Homo sapiens: one gene and its partner. The protein of the gene in region 1 purifies or fractionates together with the protein of each later gene. This does not show direct contact. Each region holds a gene or a part of one and is shown on either strand. Other genes may lie near its edges.

Region 1 (5,580 bases):
GAGATGATTACGAGCTCCTTGTCAGGGTGGGGAGGCTGGAACAAGAGTCCACTTCTGGTGACCCAGAGCAAAGGAGCAGAAGAAGGCAAGAGGACAGTAGAGTCGCTCAGTGCTTACTGGAGAGGAGGAGTCATATCCTGCATGTCCTCTTCTGCCCACCCACCTCAACCTATGGTGTGGAGTTGCTGCTTTCTCTTCTGAGAACTCCCCTCCCTCCATCCTAAACTAAACATGCTCAGGACCTTGGAAGGACTCTAACTGCTTCTCTACTAGCTCTTACACTTTTTTCTTTTTCCCTCTTTCTCACTTCCTATTCCTTCTTCCTTTCCTTCTTATTTATCCTAGACTTCTCTGGATTCGAACTTCTTCATCTGGAAAATGAGAAGTCATCTGTCCCAAGCTCCCACAGTTGTTCTGAGTCTCAAGTAGCATAACATAAGTGAGAATGTTTCATTAAGTACACTGTACATTATTAAAGTGAGAGATTAAATTATGTTTATAATCAAGGAGTTGAATTATCTTTTGAAGTCACGCCCCCAGTCCTCTACTTACCACCATGCATTCTTTCAATTCTGTTTGAACTGCAAGCACTGCAGTGACTTCGTCATTTGGACGTACTGACTTGGGAATGTCAAAATTCTTTATTATGATCTTCCGACTGATTGTGGGAAGAGAGAATCAGAACACCAGGATCAGAGACCAATCTTTGAGTGAGGGGGGAGCCATGAACAGGGCAAGGGGCACAGGATGGGCAAGGGAGGGAAATTATGGGGCTTGGATCAATTGTTCAGCATTGGAATCCCCTGGAATTTTCATGTGTTGATTGGATTGGTAACTTCACACAGATTTAATTTTGTTTAATAAAACAACTAGGACACTTTAAGATTCCTTAAAGAACTAAAAGTAGAACTACCATTTGATCCAGCAATCCCACTACTGGGTATCTACCCAGAGGAAAAGAAGTCATTATTTAGAAAAGATACTTGCACATGCATGTTTATAGTAGCACAATTCACAATTGCAAAATCATGGAACCAACCCAAATGCCCATCAATGAACGAGCATCTTCTTCCCTTCCATTGACCAAAAACAAGTTTTTAAAAAGAAAAAATGTACAATACCACATGCCACTTCCTGATAACATCCTACAGGCTCTGGTGGTTGTCTACTGAGTAGGAGGGCTCAAGTCATTATTAGGAGAAAATTTTCTAGCAACAGAATCACATTAAACCAGCAAACCTCTTGATCAGGGAAATGCAAATCAAAACCACAATGCGATACCACCTTACTCCTGCAAGAATGGCCGTAATCAAAAAATCATAAAACAGTAGATGTTGGCGTGGATGCAGTGATCAGGGGACACTTCTATACTGCTGACGGGAATGTAAACTGCTACAACCACTATGTAAAACAGTGTGGAGATTCCTTAAAGAACTAAAAATAGAACCACCATTTGATCCAGCAATCCCACTACTGGGTATCTACCCAGAGGAAAAGAAGTCATTATTCAAAAAAGATACTTGCACACACATGTTTATAGCAGCACAATTCACAATTATAAAACTGTGGAACCAACCCAAATGCCCATCAATCAACGAGTGGATAAAGAAACTGTGGTATATATATATATATATATATATATATATATATATATATATATATATATATGATGGAATACTACTACTCAGCCATAATAAGGAATGAATTAACAGCATTTGCAGTGACCTGTATGAGATTGGAGACTATTATTCTAAGTGAAGTAACTCAGTAATGGAAAACCAAACATCGTATGTTCTCACTGATATGTGGGAGCTAAGCTTTGAGGACTCAAAAGCATAAGAATGATACAATGGACTTTGGGGACTTGCGGGGAAGAGTGGGAGAGGGGTGAGGGCTAAAAGACTACAAATATGGTGCAGTGTATACTGCTCGGGTGATGGGTGCACCAAAATCTCATCACCACTAAAGAACTTACTCATGTAACCAAATACCACTTGTACCCCAGTAACTTATGGAAAAATAAAATAAAATAATAAAAAATTTTAAAAACCCAGCAAACATCTCAATGCACTGGAGGTATTTGTAGGAGCATCTTTGAAGATCCTCCTTCTGTGGTCCCCAGGTAGGGTTTAGGAATTTGTATTTATTTAGCTCCTTAGGAAATTTGGACATATGGCCATGTTTGGGAACTTTAGATACTACTCTACATTTAGACCATACACTGCAATCTGAAAAGGAAAGGAAATGGAGACAAATAAAATGGTCAAATGTTCTTCTTCAGTCAATGAGGACTGGGTTCGGGGCCAGGAGAGTTATTTTCTCGTCCCTAGAAACTCCCGGCTACGGACCTTTGTTATTGTGTGGGACAGAAGGGAATTGAGATTCTTAGCCCACAGTGTCTCACAGCCCCATTTTCTTGGGGCAAAGCATCTTAGAGAGATTCTATTTTTTGGTGCCAACTGCTGTAGTGCCCAGTGCACAGGAAAAGGGTATAAATACCTAAGCAACTTCAAAATCTCTCCCATTTGTATATGAGTTTCAGATTGATAGGATGACCAGCTTAGTTCGAGTGACTAACCATCTCAGTTTACCCAGGACTGAGGTCTTTTCCAGAATGGGTTGTGGAGGTGGCGGGGGAGGGCAGAGTTGCAGTGCTACAACCAGGAAAGTTCTGGGCAAATCAGGATGGATGGTTGATAACCTAATTAGCATAGCTTATTTGAATACCTTGCTGCCCTTCAGGGCTAAGTGGACTGTCATCTGGCGGGAATGGGGTGGGATCTGAACCTGTCCCCATGCAGGGTTTCTTGGGACACTTGCCTCCATTACATTAGCTTGTCAAAACCCTGAACAGTTTCCTCCAGGACAGGATATCTGACCATGCCATAGAGAGTACCTCCAAGATCACAACCCAGAAACCCAGCATTATAAACCCTACTGCTATAGAGAAAACTCCCTAGATTGGGTATCGCTGCTTTCTCCCAGACCCTTGGCTCCATTTTCTACTTTATTTTACTTGCTCCAATTTTTCTGCTTCCTTCACACATGTGTTCTCAATAAGTTGACTTCTGAACCTGTGCTCTCAGGTCCCAGTATACGTGAGAGCAAGAGGTCATCATATTCATCTTCAGACTTCAGGTTAGGAAGAATGTCTAAGCTGCCAGTCTAGCTCAATCTCAGACCACAGGGCAGTGGCCAGGGCCTCTGGTCCTTTAGCCAGTCCTGCCAAAGCTGCCCTAAGCTGCCATTGGAATTCACAGACCTGTTATGCTTCTCTTCTAGGAGGCAAGGTGTGAGAAGGTAAAGTTTACTGAGCAGAAATCTGAACAAAGGTATAAATTATGAACAAGATGTGGATCAGCATGTTAGATGAAGACTAACTACTAATTACAGCCTGTAGGTACATTTGGAGCTTTATTTCCACTGGCAATGCAGAAACACCCAGCAAAAATGTGAGAGGAGTTGGTGGGGCTTCCTAAGAGGACAAGAAGTGGAACCTGGCAGGAGATCCATGGGAGCTCCTGGGACTAGAGTTCTGGGAAGTTGAAAGAAATTCTCAGAAAGAGATATGTAATTTCCAGACTGGGAGAGGAGCCCTCCCTGCAATTTTTTTTGTGGGGAGGAGAAGGGCATGGCTCACGTGTTGTCCTGAGCTTTGTTGGCCCCCAACTGCAGGCAGAGAACCAGGAGCAGGGTGGCAGGGCTGGCCCTGAACAGGAGCTGGAGCAAGCGCATGCTGGAGAAAACAGAAGGCAATGTGTCCCAGAGAAGTGGTGTCCCAGGTGCCCAGCACATTTCTTATATACAGATTGATCAAGGAAGTGCAAGAGCTGCCAGGGAGATCCATGAGGTGAATCACCCATTCACCCTCCCCACTCGTGATCTTTCCTTGTTGACCCAAAGTTTGTTTTTCTAAGAAAAAATCAACACTCAGCTAGAATGTCAGCGTTTGAGAGAGGAGTCAGATTGTTCTTCCTTATTTTTTCAGCATCAGAGTTTCTCAAAATGGCTGGGACCTCAAAAGATACACCAGTTTTTCCCGAGTTTACAGATTCAGTTTTCTTTTCCCTCCTAATTTGCCTGTCTGAAGTGCTATGTGTAGTCTTAGCTTCAGTCACTGCTCCCCTGGTCTCTGAAAGCAGAGAACACAGCTGTGGTGGCAGGTTTCAGACCAGAGACATAGAACATCTTTGCTTGATCAAATTATAGTGAGTTCAAGATGCAATGCTATTCAAAACATTTCTTGGAGGGCTAGGATGATCAGGACTTCCCTAGCAGTCACTACCCATCATGAGGTGGAAGAGCTAGAGAAGACCTGAGCTGCTCTACATGATGGGGAAGTGAGTTCAAGACACTGGGTGATGTAAAGATGTTTATTGTCATTGAGTCCTTCTTAATTTCAGGTGTGGTTGCAATATACTGCAGATGTCCAAGATCCCCAGCTGCCCCACAATCCCCAAGGCAGGGTGATATTTTAATTCTAGACAATTCCTATAAATAGCTGGCACCCCCAAATCAGACTTCTTGGCACCAAAGAGCTGGCTTATTTTCTTATTGACATGGCCACTTTCTTACACTTGTCTCATGCGTAAGCCACACAGGAAGAACCACAGTGGAAAGGATTCCTTCTGTGAGAATGGAGCCCACATTATGTCCAGTAGATACCCAGGTTGTAGAATTCCTCTCCTTGGGATGATGGGGAGACTTGCTCTTGCTGACACTGGCATTGTGTTATTTCTCCTTATGAAATTAAATCTGCTCCTTAACCTATGACTTACAATACTATGGGATTTGTTTCTATCATTTGCATGGCACACAGCTGCCCAGGAAGAGCCTCTCTGGCAACAGAGTGAAAATCAGAGTTCTAGGAGTTACCGCCTCTGTATGTTGCTTTAGCCAGGATTCAGAGCTAAAGTGTAAGTGTGTGCTTCTGCTTTCTGGATGTATCTCTCAAAATTGCTCTGTCTGTTTATTCAGCTCCTGGATCTACCTTCTCTTTTCTTTGAATTGGACACCATTCATGTCATTGCTCACTCAGAACTTCAGCTGTTCTCATGATCACATGCTTTCTTCCCTGTTTATGTCCTATCCACTCAAGAACACTGCTTGTGAGGGTCACAATGACCTTCCTTTGTAAGCCTTTTCCCACAATTAAATTGTCTTTACACCTGGTCCTTCTCACTTGCATAATTTCCATTTGAAGCACATCCTAGCTACACTGACCAAGGCAGGCATAAGGCAGAAGAATCTAGGAAGTGTCTGTGTGGGAAAATGCAGGAAAAGTTCTTTGCTTGGCTCTTTGAAGGCATAGCCCTGTCCTTGAGGATGCAACTCCAGCACTCCCAAAAGGCAGTGTCCAGAGGAAGGCAGATGACGATGGGTTAAGAGCATCTATTGAAGGTAATGAGGCTGTTCTTCTGTGAGCTAGCAGGAAACTGCAATACCTACAATGTACAGGACAATCTTTTTTTTTTGAGACAGAATCTCACTCATCCAGGCTGGAGTGCAGTGGCATGATCTCAGCTCACTGCAGCCTCCACCTCCCGGGTTCAGGAAATTCTCATGCCTCAGCCACCCGAG
Region 2 (4,636 bases), on another chromosome or scaffold:
AACTCAAATCTCCATTCCCCCAACCTCTGAATTTATGTAATATCTAAAAACTGTTTTAAGAGAACATGTACACCTGACTGGTACTTTTTTTTTTTTTTTTTTTTTGGAGACAGGGTCTCACTCTGTCACCAGCCCAGACTGGAATGCAGTGGTGATCTCTGCTCAGTAAAACCTCCACCTCCCAGGTTCGAGCGATTCTCCTGCCTCAGCCTACTGAGTTGCTGAGACTACAAGCGCACGCCAACATGCCCAGCTAATTTTTGTATTTTGTGGTAGAGACGGAGTTTCACCATGTTGGCCAGGCTGGTCTCGAACTCCTGACCTCAAGTGATCTGCCCGCCTCAGCCTCCGAAAATCCTCAGATTACAGGCATGAACTACTGCATCTGGCCTGAATGGTACTATTATATTCATAGTCTCACCAATACAATTATTAAATAGCTATTATTCAAGTAATACATCTTTTCTAATACAAAACATTGAGAAAATTACAAGGTTTGAGGACCGATAAATAATATTTAACAATAATGATGATGTTAATTAAATACCAATTCAGTAAAACTTACATGTGGGCCCTAAATGTGTAGATAGGCTCTACATCTAAAGAGGCACTCCTAAAAGAGGGGGAAAAAGGGTAGGGGAAGAGAAGGCAATTAAATAACTATGAATCACTGGTTGATATTAAATAGTCATTAGATCAAATGTGTGCATTAAAGACATGCAACAATAATGAGGAATAATTACTTATATTAGCAAAATTGGAAGAAATACACCAGGCTAACACTAAAATACTTGCTTTTTGGCAGGAACTGTTTTTTGCAGGTTCCAAAGTTTCAGGGTATGGTCCTCAGAAGCAGTAACCAGCACAGGTTCTACAGGATGAAAAGCTAATGCCCGTACTCCATCAAAATGGCTACGTAGTGTATACTTGGGATTCCATGTCTTTCGAAAGGCATCTTTATTAGCAGGCAACTAAAAGGAAAGAGCACAATATTTAGTGGTAAAAGTAGTAAACTGGAAGGCATGTGGAGTGTTTGTTCGTTTCTTTTTGGTGTGTTTAACACATATATTTAAAACTGTTGGCTAAAATGTCCAGTGGAAATTTAATGTACCTTTAAAACTTTCTAAAAAAACTTTATCATTTAATAATAACTCAGAATAATTTCATTCGCCTTACAAATAGCCTAGGTCAAATGAAGAGTTCCTTAATCTGTTTTTACCTATTAAGCTAAACCCAAAGCTCCCATTAAATGTCAGATGAGAACAAAATAACTACCATTGCTGCAATACTTTACATGAAAAATAATTACATAAGTTATTACAAATATCCAACGGTACAGTATTAACAGTAAAGTTGTCATTTAGAAAACGTATTAGCATGTGAAATTATTAAAGGCAGCAAGTTAAGGTACTTTCTGAAAGTCTGAACTAAAGACCCTTTAAGAATATTTTTATCCCATTTTCATAATTCTTGATATTGACAGAGGTTTATCTTTTTACCTTCACATTTCTCCATCTGTAAAGATAGGCTGTGAAACCACTTCTAAAGCAGTCAAAAGTTTACTGGAATTTAGTCACTTATATACTTAAAAAAATATATTAATGAGAATAATCCAGCCCACCAAAGGCTGTCTCTAAGCATGCTAATGTTAAGTATAAAACGTGGAAAAAAGAAACTCATTATAAAAAGAAAAAAAAATTGCTGAAAAACTGCAATTAACATAAAGATCTAACAAGTATAGTTAACTCTCAATTGAAATATTAATGACTAGAAAAAATTAAATCCAAGACAAGTTTCACCTCTAACACTGGACTCCCCACTCCCCAACCCTTCCATCCACTCCCCAATCCTCTAATGAAGGAGTTAAGTATTCAGGAAATGATGCAAGCTAACTTTAAAATGTTCAGAAACTTTAAAATATTTCCTTAAGAAAATAAAAGTTCAAAAATAAAACATGCTTTTTAAGAAGTACTCTGAAGGCAAATATATGATTCAGGTTATTTTTTTTCTTGTTAACACCAAAATATGGCTTAATTTGAGATAATTGAGAGTTGACTACTCAAGATGTATTTACTGACCAATATATTAATCATCTCAAACTTCTAGTTAATCCACCAAAATACCTAAAAAAAAAATTTAAATACCACAAAGAGAGTAGTTATAAAAGAAAAACATGTCACTTCAAATCAACACATTGACACAAACTTATCTTTTCCATGCACCTTGATATTAATTCTGTTTTATAAGTGATTCCAAAAAATAAGGAGCCTTCTATTAAATCATTAAAAAATTAAAAATAAAACTGCACTTACATCATAACTATAGTCTGCATCATTTGTTACCGTCAAGTCTGCAAGGTCTCCAAGGCCCAGTACACTTAACAAAACATCATCAGAACCCATAATAAATGACTTGCCTCCTCCAGATGGAAACGTTATTGGTTCAGCTATAAAGAACAAAACCGCTTCTTAAATGCTGAAAAATCATACAGTACAAGACAATATTGTGGGGAAAATTTAAGCACTTAACAGTTACAATATTCAGTAATATAATTAATTTTTATTTTCCCACTTCTACTCAAAAAATCCTGTTACTAAGCAGTGTTAAACAAATGTGTTGGAACTGTGGTGTATTAACTGTCCACAAATAAAATGTGCACTAGATATATTATTCTGGGGTGGAAGCTAGGGCACAAAAGCTTTGTCTGTCTAAATCTCTTATCACTTCAGTACAATTATAACTATAGTTTACATGTTAAATAAGAAATAGGACAAATTTTGATTAAATAATGGAGTTAAATATCAGATTTTTGCATTCATGAGGGGAAACCTCTACCATGGACCTCAAGGACCTCAAAGTAGTCATATAGTATTTTTTAAATGTTAATAGGTTGTCACCAAGTCCTTTTGCTTTCTAAAGAAGTACTAGGCATCCTAGTCCCTGATAAAAACTAGTACAAACATTGAAATGTAAATGGTTTACAGTCAGCTATATACTATATCAGTTCACTAGAATGAAGCTTTAATTGTTCAGATTCCTTTAGTAACAGCAATGGTCTAGGAAAAAATTCTTCCACCAACAATGTCAGTTTCCTTTCTATAAAAGGTTAATCCACGTGGTCTTCAGAATGTCTTCCAGCTTTATTTATTTATTTATTTAGAGACACAGTCTTGCTCTGTCGCCCAGGCTGGAGTGCAGTGGTGCGATCTCGGTTCACTGCAACCTCCACCTCCTAGGTTCAAGCAATTCTCCTGTCTCGGTCTCCCAAGTAGCTGGGATTACAGGCGCCCGCCACCACGCCCGGCTAATTTTTCTGTTTTTAGTAGAGATGGGCTTTCACCATGTTGGCCAGGCTGGTCTTGACTCCTGACCTCAAGTGATCCACCTGCCTCGGCCTCCCAAAGTGCTGGGATTACAGGCGTGAGCCACCGCGCCCAGCCTGTCTTCCAGCTTTAAAGCTTTGACTATGACTTTTATTTTAATGTCCCATTCTAGTTACCATGACACTCTAAAATGAAGCAAGTAATCTTGACCACAGAGCTTTAATTTCTGATCAGATTTGCCATTTCAATTTCAAACTAAACTCAGGTTGAGCTTCACTTAGTTTTCTCAACTATATCATGTGCATTATTACAGCTTTTCATGTTAATATTAACAGTTCCAATTATTTAAAATGCGTTTTCCTTTCTATACATACTACTGACCAATTAAACTCTGCCATAATTGAATGACTATTATCTAAATATTTTGTTGTAACAGTCATAGTTTAAGCAACAACCTTCAATATCATTTCAAATATGCTTTGAAAGCAAAATTTTAACATTAAGATAACAAGGGAGAAATACTCAAATCATAATATAAAACTCAATATATCAAAACACACTTAAAATTCATGAGCAAATTTAAAAGGGACACATTATACAAAAAATCAAGCTGATTATCAATTTTAAAAAAATTCCCATGAAAAATGATATAAATATGCTACAGGAAACACAACAGGTGTAATGAAACTTGACAGTCATCACTAAACTACTGGAAATAATTCTGAGAAGACACAATTCATATATATACTATGGCAAAATAAAATTCAACTGTACTTAGAATATCTTGTTATTTTATTATTTTATCCTATCAAAATAAGCTATATAATCTGACTCAAATAGGGCTCTAAAATGCAGCTCTGATTCAGTTACTTGATCTAAAATGAATCTGAAAGCACCTGACAGAAAATATATAGAGATATTAAGTAGTATTTAATCTTTCAATGATGACACTTATTGAATCTGAATAATCTGTAGCATTGATCTTTTGATCTTTTCCTACCAATTATTAGTATGCAGTTATTGGCAATACCAGAAGCAGCTAAAAACTATAAAATCAATAATTTAAACTTATGTTTAAGGATAATTATATAAAAGTCATTATATAATATTTACTCAAAGCATTTTTCTCTAGACAAAGAAATATTTTTACTTTAAGCTCAGGGAATTTGTTTCTAAGAGAAGTCAGAACAAAATGCCACAGTTCCTCCCACTCACAATTATACAAACATTCACTGACACAAATCTCAAAAGCCCAATAAAATAACTTTAACGTAACAAATGATTTTGCAAGACTATCTCTGATCAGCCAGACC

The links. Proteins that work in one complex are often made in the same cells at the same time.
Region 2: the proteins of PIP (region 1) and STRN3 purify together in Homo sapiens (co-immunoprecipitation; 2 studies listed by BioGRID and IntAct, with this or other methods). This does not show direct contact.

Annotation. Positions count from the first base shown.
Region 1 is NC_000007.14:143,130,272-143,135,851, reverse strand, and holds the start of PIP (prolactin-inducible protein precursor), read right to left. Parts: upstream 3,776-5,580; 5' UTR 3,736-3,775; coding exon 3,641-3,735; intron 659-3,640; coding exon 553-658; intron 1-552.
Region 2 is NC_000014.9:30,911,212-30,915,847, forward strand, and holds part of STRN3 (striatin-3), read right to left. Parts: intron 2,447-4,636; coding exon 2,313-2,446; intron 972-2,312; coding exon 796-971; intron 614-795; coding exon 566-613; intron 1-565. UniProt on the Homo sapiens protein: Calmodulin-binding scaffolding protein which is the center of the striatin-interacting phosphatase and kinase (STRIPAK) complexes.